Linked DNA regions of Homo sapiens. The protein of the gene in region 1 purifies or fractionates together with the protein of each later gene. This does not show direct contact. Each region holds a gene or a part of one and is shown in the gene's direction. Other genes may lie near its edges.

What was found. Proteins that work in one complex are often made in the same cells at the same time.
Region 2: the proteins of DNAJC11 (region 1) and PDE6D purify together in Homo sapiens (affinity purification with mass spectrometry; one large-scale study listed by BioGRID and IntAct). This does not show direct contact.
Region 3: the proteins of DNAJC11 (region 1) and FKBP5 purify together in Homo sapiens (affinity purification with mass spectrometry; 2 studies listed by BioGRID and IntAct, with this or other methods). This does not show direct contact.
Region 4: the proteins of DNAJC11 (region 1) and AKAP8 purify together in Homo sapiens (affinity purification with mass spectrometry, with the first as the bait; one large-scale study listed by BioGRID). This does not show direct contact.

Annotation. Positions count from the first base shown.
Region 1 is NC_000001.11:6,635,563-6,639,694, reverse strand, and holds part of DNAJC11 (dnaJ homolog subfamily C member 11), read left to right. Parts: intron 1-1,330; coding exon 1,331-1,400; intron 1,401-2,190; coding exon 2,191-2,248; intron 2,249-2,354; coding exon 2,355-2,497; intron 2,498-3,448; coding exon 3,449-3,578; intron 3,579-3,994; coding exon 3,995-4,020; 3' UTR 4,021-4,132.
Region 2 is NC_000002.12:231,736,283-231,739,782, reverse strand, and holds part of PDE6D (retinal rod rhodopsin-sensitive cGMP 3',5'-cyclic phosphodiesterase subunit delta), read left to right. Parts: intron 1-580; coding exon of another isoform or gene 581-594; coding exon 595-683; intron 684-1,644; coding exon 1,645-1,770; intron 1,771-2,490; coding exon 2,491-2,596; intron 2,597-3,500. UniProt on the Homo sapiens protein: Promotes the release of prenylated target proteins from cellular membranes. Modulates the activity of prenylated or palmitoylated Ras family members by regulating their subcellular location.
Region 3 is NC_000006.12:35,619,416-35,622,915, reverse strand, and holds part of FKBP5 (peptidyl-prolyl cis-trans isomerase FKBP5), read left to right. Parts: intron 1-2,641; coding exon 2,642-2,784; intron 2,785-3,500. UniProt on the Homo sapiens protein: Immunophilin protein with PPIase and co-chaperone activities. Component of unligated steroid receptors heterocomplexes through interaction with heat-shock protein 90 (HSP90).
Region 4 is NC_000019.10:15,369,788-15,373,287, reverse strand, and holds part of AKAP8 (A-kinase anchor protein 8), read left to right. Parts: coding exon 1-437; intron 438-940; coding exon 941-1,070; intron 1,071-1,289; coding exon 1,290-1,336; intron 1,337-3,108; coding exon 3,109-3,142; intron 3,143-3,500. UniProt on the Homo sapiens protein: Anchoring protein that mediates the subcellular compartmentation of cAMP-dependent protein kinase (PKA type II).

The DNA of each region.
Region 1 (4,132 bases):
TATCTCTTCGTTTGTAAATCTTACTCTCAGAAAGGACTGGAGTTTATAGAAGTGTTGGGCCTCGGCTGGGCGTGGTGGCTCACGCCTGTATTCCCAGCACTTTGGAAGGCTGAGGCAGGTGGATTACCCGAGGTGAGGCGTTCAGGACCAGTCTGGCCAACATGGTGAAACCCTGTCTCTACTAAAAAAATAGAAAAATTAGCCGGGCGTGGTGGCACGTGCCTGTAATCCCAGCTACCTGGGAGGCTGAGACAGGAGAATTGCTTGAACCTGGGAGGTGGATGTTGCAGTGAGCCTAGATTGCGCCATTGCACTCCAGCCTGGGTGACAGAGCAAGACTCGGTCTCAAAAAAAAAAAAAAAAAAAGTGTTGATCCTCTAAACCATGGCCTCAAGAAAGAAGAAGTTTTCCTTTCTCCTTTCCCAGCGCTGAGTTTAAGAGGAATGCGTTCTGGATCCGTATGTGAGGGGCCTGCGTTAACTAGAGTCTTGAAAGTCACAGAAACACAACGTTTTTGCAGTTTCTTAGATAATCCATTGGGGCATGCCGTGAAACCTAAATTATTAGTGCAAGCATCTCTACAGAAAACTGAGAGCTGGTATAGATTTGTTACTTTATAATATCTCATTTAGTAAAGCATTGCACTTAGAGAATCTCAGATAAAGGAATGAATCTCCTCTTCTGGGCCCGTCTGGCCTTTGGACTCAGAATCCTAATTCCCTAGGAGGCTTGAGGCTTAGAACAAGACATGTGCTGGCCCAGCCTTCTCTCAGAAGGGAGGACAGGCATATGCTGACCCCAAGGCCCATACTTTGTTACAGGAAAGCGGATCTGTGTGTCTAAAGTGGTATTAGTTGTTCCTACCAAAAGTGTTATTTAACAACTCACGCCTGTAACCCTAGCACTTCGGGAGGCCGAGACAGTAGGATCACTTGAGCCCAGGAGTTCGAGACTAGCCTGGGCAATATAGTGAGACCCCCATCTCTATCTTAAAATTAAAATTAAAAAAATAATAATCCCACAAGGTTGGTGGGATCTCCTGAAATTCTCCTGTGGTGGGGTCTTCTTTCCAAAGAGACTGACAGTCGGTGTCCCGTCAGCTTGGTGAGGAGGTGGGGCAGAGCCATCTAAGGATAAAATGAAAGCTGCCAGCCTGTGACTAACAGACTTGCCTGAGACTGTCGTGGGAATATTTTTTAAAGTTCTACAACTGAACTCCAGTAAGATCACAGACTGTTTGCTGGGCTCGGGTCCAGCACGGGAGGGGCTGTGTTGGCTGGAAGCTGGGCAGCGCCGCGCTAACGTGGGGCTTGTGTTCCTCTCGCGTAAGGGAATTGGAGAAGCAGAGGGAAAGCGCCGCCACCGATGTGCTGCAGAAGAAGCAAGAGGCGGAGTCCGCTGTGAGTGCTGCCCCACCGTTCCCAAGCGAGGGCTGTAGGGGACACACTCCACACCCCACATGTTGGTCTCAGGGCCTTAGAGGTCAGACTTCTCTTCTCCAACAACTTGGCTCTCCACTTAGTCTTTATTGTGGGATGCGACACTGGGCTCTGCAGTCCCTGCCCTGAAGATAATTACCCTCCAAAGGCCTAACAAGGGCTTTTTTAAAGTGGTGAGTATTGGCCTCTTTTTCTTCCCTCTGAGTGTTCTGCCTTTTACTGAGCAGGAGGGAGCAGGCTTCCTGGGTATGTGGCGAGCATACTGCCAGGTGGCCATGGGCCGTGTGCGCGGCCTGGCGAGCACATGCCTGTCTGAGGGGGCGGCACAGCTATGCCCAGCAGAATGGCACCACAGGAGAACACAGGTCCTTTCTCAAGAGGAGCTGGGATTCCAGCTTCTCCTGTGAAATCTCTTTATTTTTAAAGCTGACAACGCATTGTTTTTTTATTGGGTCAACAAATCCCACCCACGCATTAATGATCCCTAGAAAGGGAGCTCCCACCGGTGGCCACCGGAGGGTCATGCCGTTTCAGGTGCTTCTCACCTTCTGACCCAGAGCTGCCTGCCCTAGGTCTAGGAGTTTCAGAGTGAGCCACTCGGGTAGCAGAGCTGTCAGGGTGCCCACTCCCTTCCTTTCCAGGCCCTGAGCAAGTATGTTGACGTGGACAAGACTGCCTGCCTGTGGCCCTCTCACCAGAGGTGGAACAGGCCTGGCAGGGCCCTGACTGTGTCATCCTTGTTCTCTGGCAGGTCCGGCTGATGCAGGAATCTGTCCGAAGGATAATTGAGGCAGAAGAGTCCAGAATGGGTGAGAACATGTGTCCTCTCTTGGTCCAGGGTGGGCGCTGGGGGTCTCTAAGCCACACAAGGAGGTGCCTGGAGGAGGCCTTCCTCTACTCGGAGTCTGTCCTTAGGCCTCATCATCGTCAATGCCTGGTACGGGAAGTTTGTCAATGACAAGAGCAGGAAGAGCGAGAAGGTGAAGGTGATTGACGTGACTGTGCCCCTGCAGTGCCTGGTGAAGGACTCGAAGCTCATCCTCACGGAGGCCTCCAAGGTACAGCAGCACCAGCCACCACATGCTATGTGCTCACAGATTTGAACAGGCTGGGCGCGGTGACTCAGGCCTATAATCCTAGCACTTTGGAAGGCCAAGGTGGGCGGATTGCTTGAGCCCAGGAGTTCAAGATCAGCCTAGGCAACATGGCAAAACCCTATCTCTACAAAAAAGAGAAAAAATCAGCTGGGCATGGTGACACACACCTGTTGTCCCAGCTGTTCGGGAGGCTGAAGCGGAAGGATTGGTTGAGCCCAGGAGGTTGAGGCTACAGTGAGCTGTGATTGTGCCACTGCACTCCAGCCTGGGTGACAGAGCAAGACCCTGTCTCAAAACAAACAAACAAACAGTGGTGTGAAGAATAGGTTCAGTCTGACAAGGACAGCCTGGCCCCTTAAAGTGGGATCTTTGCCGTCATCAGCATCTACTGTGTGGGATGCTGCCCAGCTCCTGAGTAGTACCCACGTTGGAGCTATTCTCTTCATTCAGTCATTTCTTTCACCACTCAGTAAGGATTTACTGAGCCCCTGGTGTGTGCCAGTCACACCAGCAAACAGAACACACGCCTGCCTTCATGGCATTTGATTCTGTTTATTTTTGCCTCATTCCAGAAAGATCATGAGGTCACTTGTAACATGTGTGAGTCTTGCCTCTGGGGCCTGGGGCATGGACCATACAGAAGGATGAAAATGCAGGTTAGCTCAGGCCAGAGAGTTCCTGGCACCCTAGAAGTCATCTGGTGGCCCTGTCTTAGTGTGAGGATAGGGCCTTTATTAAGAAGCGAGTCTTGGCAACTTTTTCAAATTCTTGTTTCTTTTTCTTCATGCCCCAAAGTTTGCATCTCCCCAGGGAATGTCAGAGCCTGTGCACACTGCCCCTCCGGTGGTAGTGAGGAGGAGTGCTGGTCTTAGACCGTCTGGAGTATTGAGAGTAGCAATTTGTTTGTTACAGGCTGGGCTGCCTGGCTTTTATGACCCGTGTGTGGGGGAAGAGAAGAACCTGAAAGTGCTCTATCAGTTCCGGGGCGTCCTGCATCAGGTGATGGTGCTGGACAGTGAGGCCCTCCGGATACCAAAGCAGTGTGAGTAGCCGTCCCTTCGCAGTCACCAGCTAACGGGGGCGGGGACCTCGAAGCGGCTGCTCAGTGTGTGGGCTGCCAGCCACCTTCCACCTTCCTCAGCTGCCCACCTGGGAGCAGAGACGCCAACTAGCCCTTGACCCATGATTCACTCAGAGCCCATGATTTGTGCCCTAAAAGGGGGGCTGGGGCCCTTTCACAGGTAGAATTAGAGTGAGCGCGTTGGAAACTGCGGCTTGAGTGGCGGGGGATGAAAGCAGACCTCTACGTTCCAGCAGCAGTTGATTTTCAGCAGCGGGTGCTCTGCCTCGCCTGGGCCCAGCCAGCTGCTGGTCCGGGTGACTGCTGAGCCCCATCAGTAGAAAGGTGCATGGGAATGGCCACCTTCTGATCACCTGCGTCTGTCTTTTCCTTTACAGCCCACAGGATCGATACAGATGGATAAACTGCCAAGAACCAGATTTTTAAAAGGCCGCAAAAAATCTTTTCCTGGGAGTCTACAAATTTGGAAATGAAAAAACCCAGACATCAGATGTTTTTATTTTATATTATTATTA
Region 2 (3,500 bases), on another chromosome or scaffold:
ACGTGCTCCTATAATTCCAGCTACTCAGGAGGCTGAGGCACAAGAATTGCTTGAACCAAGGAGATGAAGGTTGTAGTGAGCCGAGATTGTGCCACTGCATTCCAGCCTGTGTGACAGAGTGAGACTCTGTTTCAAAAAAAAAAAACAGAGGGGGCCACTACAAAGCAATTTGAGAGTTCTGTGCTTGTGGGTGAAGTTTATGGACTGTGGCATTCACTATAGAGTGATCTTCATGAGTTGTTTCCTTGGGGTACATCTGATATTTGTTTCTTTAGGTATTTTATCTTGGTTGGTCAGATCCTGTTGGTAAATTTTAAATTTTGCACTATTCGTTTTCTGTCCCTTTCTTGCAGTCTCTAGGTGTGTGCAGTCTTAGGATTCTCATAGATAAAAGTAACTTCTCTAGGTTTCTGCTTCTTCCTTTAGATGTCTTTTTGACTCTCCTCACATTCTTATGTGCTTCCATGGCAATGAGCAGTTTGACAAACTTTTTAAAAAGTAAACAAGAGTTGGTGGGAGTAAACATGAGACACCTAGAATACAAAGTGGGAGTCACTTTCAGTGCCTTATTTTTCCTTAGTCATATTTGATCAGAAATTGGATGAACCTTCGGGATGCTGAGACAGGGAAGATACTCTGGCAAGGAACAGAAGACCTGTCTGTCCCTGGTGTGGAGCATGAAGGTACTTTCCAACCCTTTATCTACACAGGGCTGTGACCAATGCCAGACTAGCACCTGAGCATAAGAGAGCTAAGTTAACACATACCTAATAGGCGGGTGAGCCCCTGAAGACACAGCATGTTAATCCATGTGTTGTTGACAGTTTCAGTTACTTTCTTTTTTTTTTTTTTTTTTTTTTTTTGAGACACAGTCTTGCTCTATCACCCAGGCTGGATGGAATGCAGTGGTGTGATCTTGGCTCACTGCAACCTCTGCTTCCCAGGTTCCAGCGATTTTCATGCCTCAGCCTCCCGAGTAGCTGGGACTACAGGCGTGCGCCACCACATCTGGCTAATTTTTGTATTTTGAGTAGAGATGGGGTTTCACCATGTTGGCCATCCTGGTCTCGAACTCCGGACATCAAGTGATCTGCCCGCCTCAGCCTCCCAAAGTGCTGGGATTACAGGTGTGAGCCACCACGCCCAGCCAGTTACTTTCTTAACAGTTCTTTCTCTCACTTCCCAAAACCCATTTTGTGCTGATATTTTACCATTAGAACATACCCAAAGATAGAAACTAAGATCTCAACTTTTTCTCCAAAAGAAAATTTGCATTTTTATCTCCCTGAAGTAAAGAAGAAGGAAGGGGTTAAAATCACCAGAACAGAGTAGAGAGAAGGTACCCATGCAGCCCCCTTCCTGATGAGAGTAGTTAGATGAGGCCCTTAGATGCACAAAACCTGGTGTTCCTTGAAGATCTAATATCTTTCAGATACGGGTGACCAATTAGAGACCTCTGCTTTCAGCCACACAAAGTGTAATGCACTTACCAAGGCATTATCCAAAATGTAAGAAAGTGTTCTCTAAATCAGCTGTAAGAAAGTGTTCTCTAAATCAGCTGTAAGAAGCTCCCAGAAATTTGAAGCATCATAGTCCTGTGGTTTTCATTTAGAAAGGCTTCAACATTTGTTTTTCTCTTACCAGCCCGTGTTCCCAAGAAAATCCTCAAGTGCAAGGCAGTGTCTCGAGAACTTAATTTTTCTTCGACAGAACAAATGGAAAAATTCCGCCTGGAACAAAAAGTTTACTTCAAAGGGCAATGCCTAGAAGGTATTCTGCTGCCTACATGCCTGAAATCAGGGCTTAGGGCGACCAGGACAAAAGGCAACAATACCCAGTGAACTAAAGCAGTGCTTTGATAACATTCCTTTTACAACTCAGTTTGTGGTAGGATTCCTACACTCTGCAAGACTGTGAATCCCCAGTGAAACAAACCAAAACAAAGCTAGCCACTACAAGGGGCTTTGAGGTCTCTGACACTGGGAGCGTGGATGGTGGTGCCTGGTTTAGGCACTGACGTTGTATTGTGATATGATCATGGAGGAAGCTGCTATGAGCAGGGCCTAGTACAGTGCTCTACATACAGTATCATACAGATTTGACTGGCAAGGCCACTCTGCATTGAATTCTCACCATGCAGTGTAAAGGGCACATAAGCCCCTTCAAGCTAATTCCAAGTGAATTTAACTATGTATCTATATATAGTTCACATCTAGCCTACCTCTAAGAAAATGCTGCTTATATTGTGTCCTGCTCGCTGGTCCTAGTCCTTTAGACCTCAAAGCATGAGAAGCAAGCCTTTGGTGTGGTTCAGAGGACAACCTGAGCAGGCTTCCCTGTCTTTTTTACGCCCCTGGTCTGAGAGGTTGCTGATAGCTTCCTTTGGTGGTTCTCAGGGTAGGAAGAGGCTCACTCTAGAGAGGGAGACAAAGAGCCCTTAAACTTTATACTGGGGCACCTGCTCACCCCGGCTTTTCCTTCTTCCTTCAGAATGGTTCTTCGAGTTTGGCTTTGTGATCCCTAACTCCACAAATACCTGGCAGTCCTTGATAGAGGCAGCACCCGAGTCCCAGATGATGCCAGCAAGCGTCTTAACGTGAGTGAGCAGGTCTCAGGAAATTATGAAGTGTGTCTAGAAACAGGCATTCCAGGCAGGTGGGACTCCTGGTGCCATTCAGTGGGCAGAGAGCTCGGTTGAGAAATAGAGTAAAAGAGTATCCAAGGGTATCTAGGTTTCCAGGTTCCTGACCTTTTTCATATGAAAAAGACAGTATGATAGAGTAGAAAGAATAAAAAACTAAAAATAAAAATAAAACTTTAGATTAAACCAGATTTAAATTCCTGATTCACCCTGACTACCTGTGTCATCTTGGGCACTAATATACTTTATCTCTCTGAGCCTTAGTCTTTCATCTCTAAACACAGAAATTAATTCTGTCTTACAGAGGTGTAATGAAGATAAAATGTGATGACATGGAAGGAGACTGGCATTTAATATATATACCGAATCTATGTTAATTTGCTCCCATTCCTGACTACCGTACTTCCGGTATCTCTGTATTTTGTTTAGATCACCTTTAACAGAATCTGGCAAAGTCCTATTAATAATTCTGTTTTCGAGGATACTACTTGGTTACAGTTTTTTGGAGAATGGCTTACCATATTAATAGCTTTGGTTCCTGTTCCAAGAACAATTTGTTTGTGCTTTTTCCAAAAACACTGTCAATAACTTCCTACCTCCCATTGTCTGTGGGAAAGATGTTAGTCTCTCAAATGTTATAGTAATAGTACCTTCTAAAGAGTTAGCTGGGCGTAATGGCACACACCTGTAATCCCAGCTACTCAAGAAGCTGAGATAGGAGAATTGCTTGAACCCAGGAGGTGGAGGTTACAATGAGCCAAGATCATGTCACTGCATTCCAGCCTGGGTAGCAGACCAAGACTCTATTTCAAAAAAAAAAGAGTTAGTCCCACAGATAATTGTGTAATATTGGATCATC
Region 3 (3,500 bases), on another chromosome or scaffold:
GTTATTATTTACATTTTGCAGGTGAGGAGACTAAGCACAGAGATTAAATAACTTGCACAAGTTTACACAGATAGTAAAGGGCAAACTTGGTATTCAAATCCAGGTATTCTGAAGTTAGAGTATGCTGCATTTTTGACCTCTAAAATGTACATCCTCCTTTCTACTGATGGAGAAAGAGGATGAAGATATATAATAAATGAAAAAGTAGTTTAGAACTGAATGTCTAGTTTGCTGTCATTTGTATTTTAAATTTTTTTAAAAAGTGACAGCACACAGTAGGATACCAAAGAAACGTAACAGTTACTTATAAGGAGCAGATGGATGGCCTTTCAGCTTTCACTTTCCATCTCTTTCATGGGTGTTTTAATAATAGGCATGTATTACTTGATTTTTTTTTTTTTTTAAGAGACAGGGTCTCGCTCTGTCACCTAGTCTGGAGTGCAGTGACATAATCATTGCTCACTGTAGCCTCTTACTCCTAGGCTCAAGCTCTTCTCCTGTCTTAACCTCCAAAGTAGCTGGAGCTACAAGCATATGCCACCATGCCGCACTAATTTTTTAAATTTTTGTAGAGATGGAGTTTCACTATGTTGCCCTGGCCGGTCTTAAAACTCTTGGGCTCAAGTGGATGCTCCTGCTTTGGCCTTCCAAAATGCTGAGATGAGAGGTATGAGCCACTATTCCTGGCCACTTACATATATTTTTAACTGAAATAAATGTAGCTGACATTTTGAAAAGTTGTAATATTTAATGAAGATTAAGCTAAAGTCATGAATAAAAAATGGTTTATCTATCCCTGCTTACATACTGTTATGTAGGGTTTCCCTTGTCCTAATATCCTACCACCAGCTCACTTCAAATTCACTTCCTCTGGGGTTCATCTCTTATCTGATCCTACTTTTGAATACTTACATTTTTGTTTTTGTTTTTTGAGACAGGACAGGGTCTCCACTCTGCTGCCCAGGCTGGAGTGCAGTGGCATGATCTCAGCTCACTGCAGCCTTGACCTCCTGGACTCAAGTAGTCCTCTCTCCTCAGCCTGCTGAGTAGCTGGCAAGCACCACCACGCCTGGCTCATTTTTTAAATATATTTTTTTGTGGAGATGGGGTTTCACCATGTTGCCTGGGCTGGTCTCAAACTCCTAAGCTCAAGGGATCTGCCCGCCTTGGCCTCCCAAAGTGCTGGGATTACAGCTGGGATTACAGGCGCGAGCCAACGTGCCCAGCCCCCAGATACTTAATATTTCTGATTGACAGAGTACCTCATTTGTCATTTAGCCTTTTTTTTTTTTTTTTTGGAGACAGAGTCTTGCTGTGTCGCCCAGGCTGGAGTGCAGTGGCATGATCTCTACTCACTGCAACCTCCGCCTCCCAGGTTCAAGCAATTCTCCTGCCTCAGCCTCCTAAGTAGCTGGGATTACAGGCACGCACTACCATGCCTGGCTAATTTTTGTATTTTTAGTAGAGACGGGGTTTCACCATGTTGGCCAGGCTTGAATTCCTGGCCTCAAGTGATCCGCCTGTCTTGGCCTCCCAAAGTTCTGGGATTACAGGCGTGAGCCACCATGCCCCACCAAAATGTAATTTAGCCTTTTAAATGGCCTAAATTTTCTATTGTTTCCGAAAGGACTTGATACTGCTTACAGTAAGATAATGATGCACATCATAGGAACTATAAACATTGAGATTACAATTATATAGCCTAATATAGTTCTACAATTGAGCAGTAAATTTAACTTAGTTTCCTGGAAGTAGGCAAAAAATAAAATATTTTAAGTTCTGTAGTTGTGGTTTGACAAAAAGACACATATGTTTTTGTTTAAAGGAACATTTTTCTGATTCTAAATTTTGAGAAGAAATGTGTTTCATGGACCCTTTTATGCAATTTATCCTGTTCTGGTTACTTCTTGTTTTGTTGTTTTTTTTGTCTACCCAACTAAATTATAAGCTTCCTTAGGACACACTCTATTTTTCAATACTATTTTTGTTCTATCTCTGCCTAGAAAATTTGCGCTTATTATAGTTGAAATGATAAATTAGGCAACAATTGCAACATAGCCATATTTCATGGATAATGTTACCACCAGTTTTCAAAGACTTAATTTTTGAGTAGTTTAGGAATTTATATTACTTTCATCCCTTTCAGCAGGGAATCCTTTTTGAGACAGGGTCTCACTCTGTCACCCAGGCTAGAGTGCAGTGGCATAATCATGACTCACTGAAGCCTCAATCTCCTGGGCTCCCAGGCTTAAGCTGTCCTCCCACCACAGCCTCCGGAGTAGCTGGGACTACAGGTGTGCACCATACCCAGCTGTGTTCTTTGGTTCTTTGGGGTGTTTTTTTTTTTTTTTTAGAGATGAGGTCTTGCTGTGTTGCCCAGGCTGGTGTCAAATTCCTGGACTCAAGCAGTCCTCCCACCTCAGCCTCCCAAAGTGCTGGGCCGATCAACAGGGAATCTTTTGTGATAGCCTTCAAAAAAAATAATTTATTTATTTGTATGTAGCACTCTGTCATCTTGTAGCCCATACTTTCTAGCTGAGTATGTAGTATGAAAAACTGGAAATTAGAACTTTGGTTTTATGAAAGTTAAATCTTTTTAAATAGGGCTTATAGCTTTCAACTACCTTTTCCTTTCCCTTAGGCCAAGTCATCAAGGCATGGGACATTGGGGTGGCTACCATGAAGAAAGGAGAGATATGCCATTTACTGTGCAAACCAGAATATGCATATGGCTCGGCTGGCAGTCTCCCTAAAATTCCCTCGAATGCAACTCTCTTTTTTGAGGCAAGTATGTGTGTGATGTTGCCTTGTCAGCATCTGCTCTACAATAGGAATGGCTTTGAAGCAACAGGCAGTGGGAAAAGGAGCTAAGCTTGCTATAGAGAATCAGATCCAACTTACTTATTTTGGAGCATGGCTTCTTGAATTGTTTCCCACAAACCCAAGGGTGCGCGTGCCAGTGCTTTCTTAGAAACGTGTTTCTAGCACAAAAAGGTCATATCCAAATAAACAAAAGACGCTACACTTAGAAATAAAGATTCTGGTCCATGGTGTGAGTGTGACATACTCAAAATTGACCAGAGTACAGGATGGAAATGTTGGCGATAAATGTTGAAATATGCCTATGTCACGTTGCGGGGTATTTACATATTATAAAAATTTATGTGTCACAGATCTCACTTCTCTAGAAGCCGTTGGTGGTGATAAAACATTATTCATCCTATGTTGAATTACATATATTTGGCAAAACTTGATTTTTAAGAACCACCCCAGCTAGGTAAAATACACCTTTAATCAGTCGTAGGTCACATCCATGAGATTTATTCTTACATTTTGAGAAGGGAACTCCATAAACCCAGGATGGGAAAGTTGTGGCCTCAAACAAAATAGTTCTACACCAGCACCTTGTAGCTCTGGCTTTTTGCCCACAGGGTAGTTTTCCTAGTATTTCCTATCTTTGCACTGCAGTCCCTTAGGATATAGTTCTAGACATTAGCATT
Region 4 (3,500 bases), on another chromosome or scaffold:
AGCACAACCCCTACCGCCCCAGCTACAGCTACGACTATGAGTTCGACCTGGGGTCCGACCGCAATGGCAGCTTTGGGGGGCAGTACAGTGAATGCCGAGACCCAGCCCGGGAGCGGGGCTCCCTTGATGGCTTCATGCGGGGCCGGGGCCAGGGCCGCTTCCAGGACCGGAGCAACCCTGGCACCTTCATGCGCAGCGACCCCTTCGTGCCCCCCGCTGCGTCCTCTGAGCCCCTGTCCACGCCCTGGAACGAGCTGAACTACGTGGGTGGACGGGGCCTGGGAGGGCCCTCCCCCAGCCGGCCACCTCCGTCCCTCTTCTCCCAGTCCATGGCTCCCGACTACGGCGTGATGGGCATGCAGGGGGCGGGCGGCTATGACAGCACCATGCCCTACGGATGTGGCCGCTCGCAGCCTCGGATGCGGGATCGGGATCGGGTAAGCCCTCGCAAGGTTCCTTCCGGCCGCCTTCGCTTCTCTTTTTAGCAGCTTTATTGAGGTAAAATTTCCCCATCTCAACATTCACTTAAATGTTTTTAAGTGCGCAGTTCGACTTTTAGTTAATTTACAGGATTGTGCAACCATCCCCACCATCACAGTCTAATCTTAGCATTTATGTCAACCAGAAGAGAAACTTCTTCTCATTAGTCACCCCTGTCTCTTCCCCGCCCCCACCAGCCCCCGACAACCACCACTGGTCTCTGGATTTGTGTGTTCTAGACATTTTGCACAAATGGAGTCGCGAAACGTGTGGCCTTTTGTTCCTGGCTTCTTTTCACTCAGCATGATTTTCTTTTTAGTTTCAAATTATGTTGTCTCTTTGCTTTTTGAAAAGACCTTTTGTGCCTGTGTTGTCTGATCCTACAACCTCCTTGTTCTTTTCTGTGGGGCATCTTCATGGCCCTCGTAAGTAGCTCATGGGGTGTGCTTGTTGTCTGTAGCCCAAGAGGAGAGGGTTTGACCGCTTCGGACCAGATGGCACGGGCAGGAAACGGAAGCAGTTCCAACTTTACGAGGAGCCAGACACCAAACTGGCCCGGGTTGACAGTGAAGGAGATTTCTCCGAAAATGGTATGTCCTGGGGGCCAGGTGGGCCAGACAGATGTAGGATGGGTCGGCTGCCTGCTGGGGGCTCTGCTTGCCCCATCTGTGTCGTGGACACTCGCAGGTGGCATGTTTCAACCCCACTGTGGTCAGGGCAGACTCACCCTGGATGGCGAGCTTGGGAGGGCGGAAACCGGATGGGACCGTTCTCCGGGGACTGACTTTTCCTTTCTTTGTGTCTGGCAGATGACGCAGCTGGTGACTTCCGCTCAGGAGATGAAGAATTCAAGGGTGTAAGTCCACCAGGCAGCCCTTTTGCCTCTAGTGTGGGATTTCTTCTTTCTTTAATCACCCTTCCTCACAAAGGGGCAGGAGCAGCTGCCATGGTAGATTTGACTACCTCTGAGTGGATTCAGGACCCTGACTTTTAGCTAGATTTCTAAAAGTTTTCCACCTTAGCCGGCACGGTGGCTCACACCTGTAATCCTAGCACTTAGGGAGGCTCAGGTGGGTGGATCACTTGAGGTCGAGAGTTGGAGACCAGCCTGGCCAACATGGTGAAACCCCGTCTCGATTAAAAATACAAAAATTAGCCAGGAGTGGTGGCACTTGCCTGTAGTAGCAGCTACTTGGGAGGCTGAGGGAGGAGGATCACTTGAACCTGGGAGGTGGAGGTTGCAGTGAGCTGACGTTGCATCACTGCACCCCAGCCTGGGCGACAGAGGGAGACTCCGTCTCAAAAAAAAAAAAAAAGTTTTCAACTTACAACAAACATTCCTTTTCTGAAAAAAGCTCCCAGTTCCTCTCCCTGGTCTCTAGGCCAGTAAGTGCAGGGACTGTGGGCTGAAGCCTCCAAGCACAGGCTGGAGGCTCATTTGCCGCCAGCTCCGTGCCGGGTGCCGCTGACTGGTGTCCTCATCCTTCCATCCTCACAACAAGGCACAGGCAGGCAGCACGTGGGGCCAGTTCATAGCCGGGACCACCCCAAGCTCTTGGGGAGGTGCCTCAGCCACCCCAGTGTAGATTCTGATCCAAGTTGGAGGTGTAGGGCCTGGAGGTCCAGAGTGGGAAGGAGGGCCTTCCCCAAGTCCTTAGAGTCACACAGGCAGGGAACAGGCAGGAGATGGTGGCTTTTCAGGTTTTCAGAGTCTCACTTGATCCCTATTTTGCTGGTCTTGAGATTAGGAATCTCTGTAAACCTGCTGATTGTTAATTTAGCCGTATGTTCACTGCCTAAGGAGTCAGCTCTGTTCAGATTCTCAGTTGAATCGTTTTTATCTATACGTGATTGTTATTAAGACATCGGGTAAATATAGGCCTGGCGCGGTGGCTCACACCTGTAATCCCAGCACTTTGGGAGGCCAAGGCGGGTGGATCACGAGGTCACAAGATTGAGACCATCCTGGCCAATATGGTGAAACCCCGTCTCTACTGAAAATACAAAAATTAGCTGGATGTGGCGGCATGCGCCTATAGTCCCAGCTACTCGGGAGGCTGAGGCAGAGGATTTGCTTCAACCCAGGAAGCAGAGGTTGCAGTGAGCTGAGATTGCATCATTGCACTCCAGCCTGGGAGACAGGGCGAGACTCCGTCTCAAAAAAAAAAAAAAAAAAAAAAAAGACATTGGGTAAATATAAACAAAAGCTCGGGAAACGTGGTGGAACCCATTTTCTATGAAGAATGCCAGAACTGGCATCCCCCAAGTGAGACTCTATCTCCCTACGGTTGGTGAACAGGCTCCATTCATAGAATTGTACGGGTGGGTCTTTGTCATGGGGCAGGCAGTTCTGCAGCTTAGGAGGAACCGAGAGAGGGTGGGTGAATGGCTTTTTAGCAAGGTGATTGTCACAGAATCTCTGAAGGCAACTAGGAGTAATAACAGGACACACAGGCCCTGTCCTGAGCCCCGGAGGCTGGTCCTAACACACTGTGGCTCATTCTTGGTGGCATAGCAACCTAGGTCTTGGGTGAGACTGCCCACCAGGCAGTGGCCAGGGACTGGGCTGGTTGTGGAGAGTCTGGACACACCAGCTCACTGCCGGACTTTGTGTATACTCTTTTCCAGGAGGATGAACTCTGCGACTCTGGGAGGCAAAGAGGTAGGCATCACCGTGTCCCTTGCAGCTTTCCTGTGTCTTCCCAGCTGCCCCGCACTTACTGCCCAGCTTCTGAGCAAGCCAGGGGCCTGGATGGAGGGGCCCGTGGCTGTGGGGGAAGAGGGGCTGCAGCCACCAGATGGGCCTTGACCGTGGCGATCAGCCAACACTTTGCTTCAAAGTGTCTGGGGCAGCATTTACTGGAAACGGGTCTGTCTGCCTGACCCGATGTGGGCTGCAGTGGGGATGGGGGGCAGCCTTGGGTGTCCACCACAGTCGAAGTTTGTAGGGAAGGAGAAACATGAGAGAAGAGGCCCCCAGCCCATCTTCTGTGCCCTCCTCGGCCAGTGCATTTCCCTGA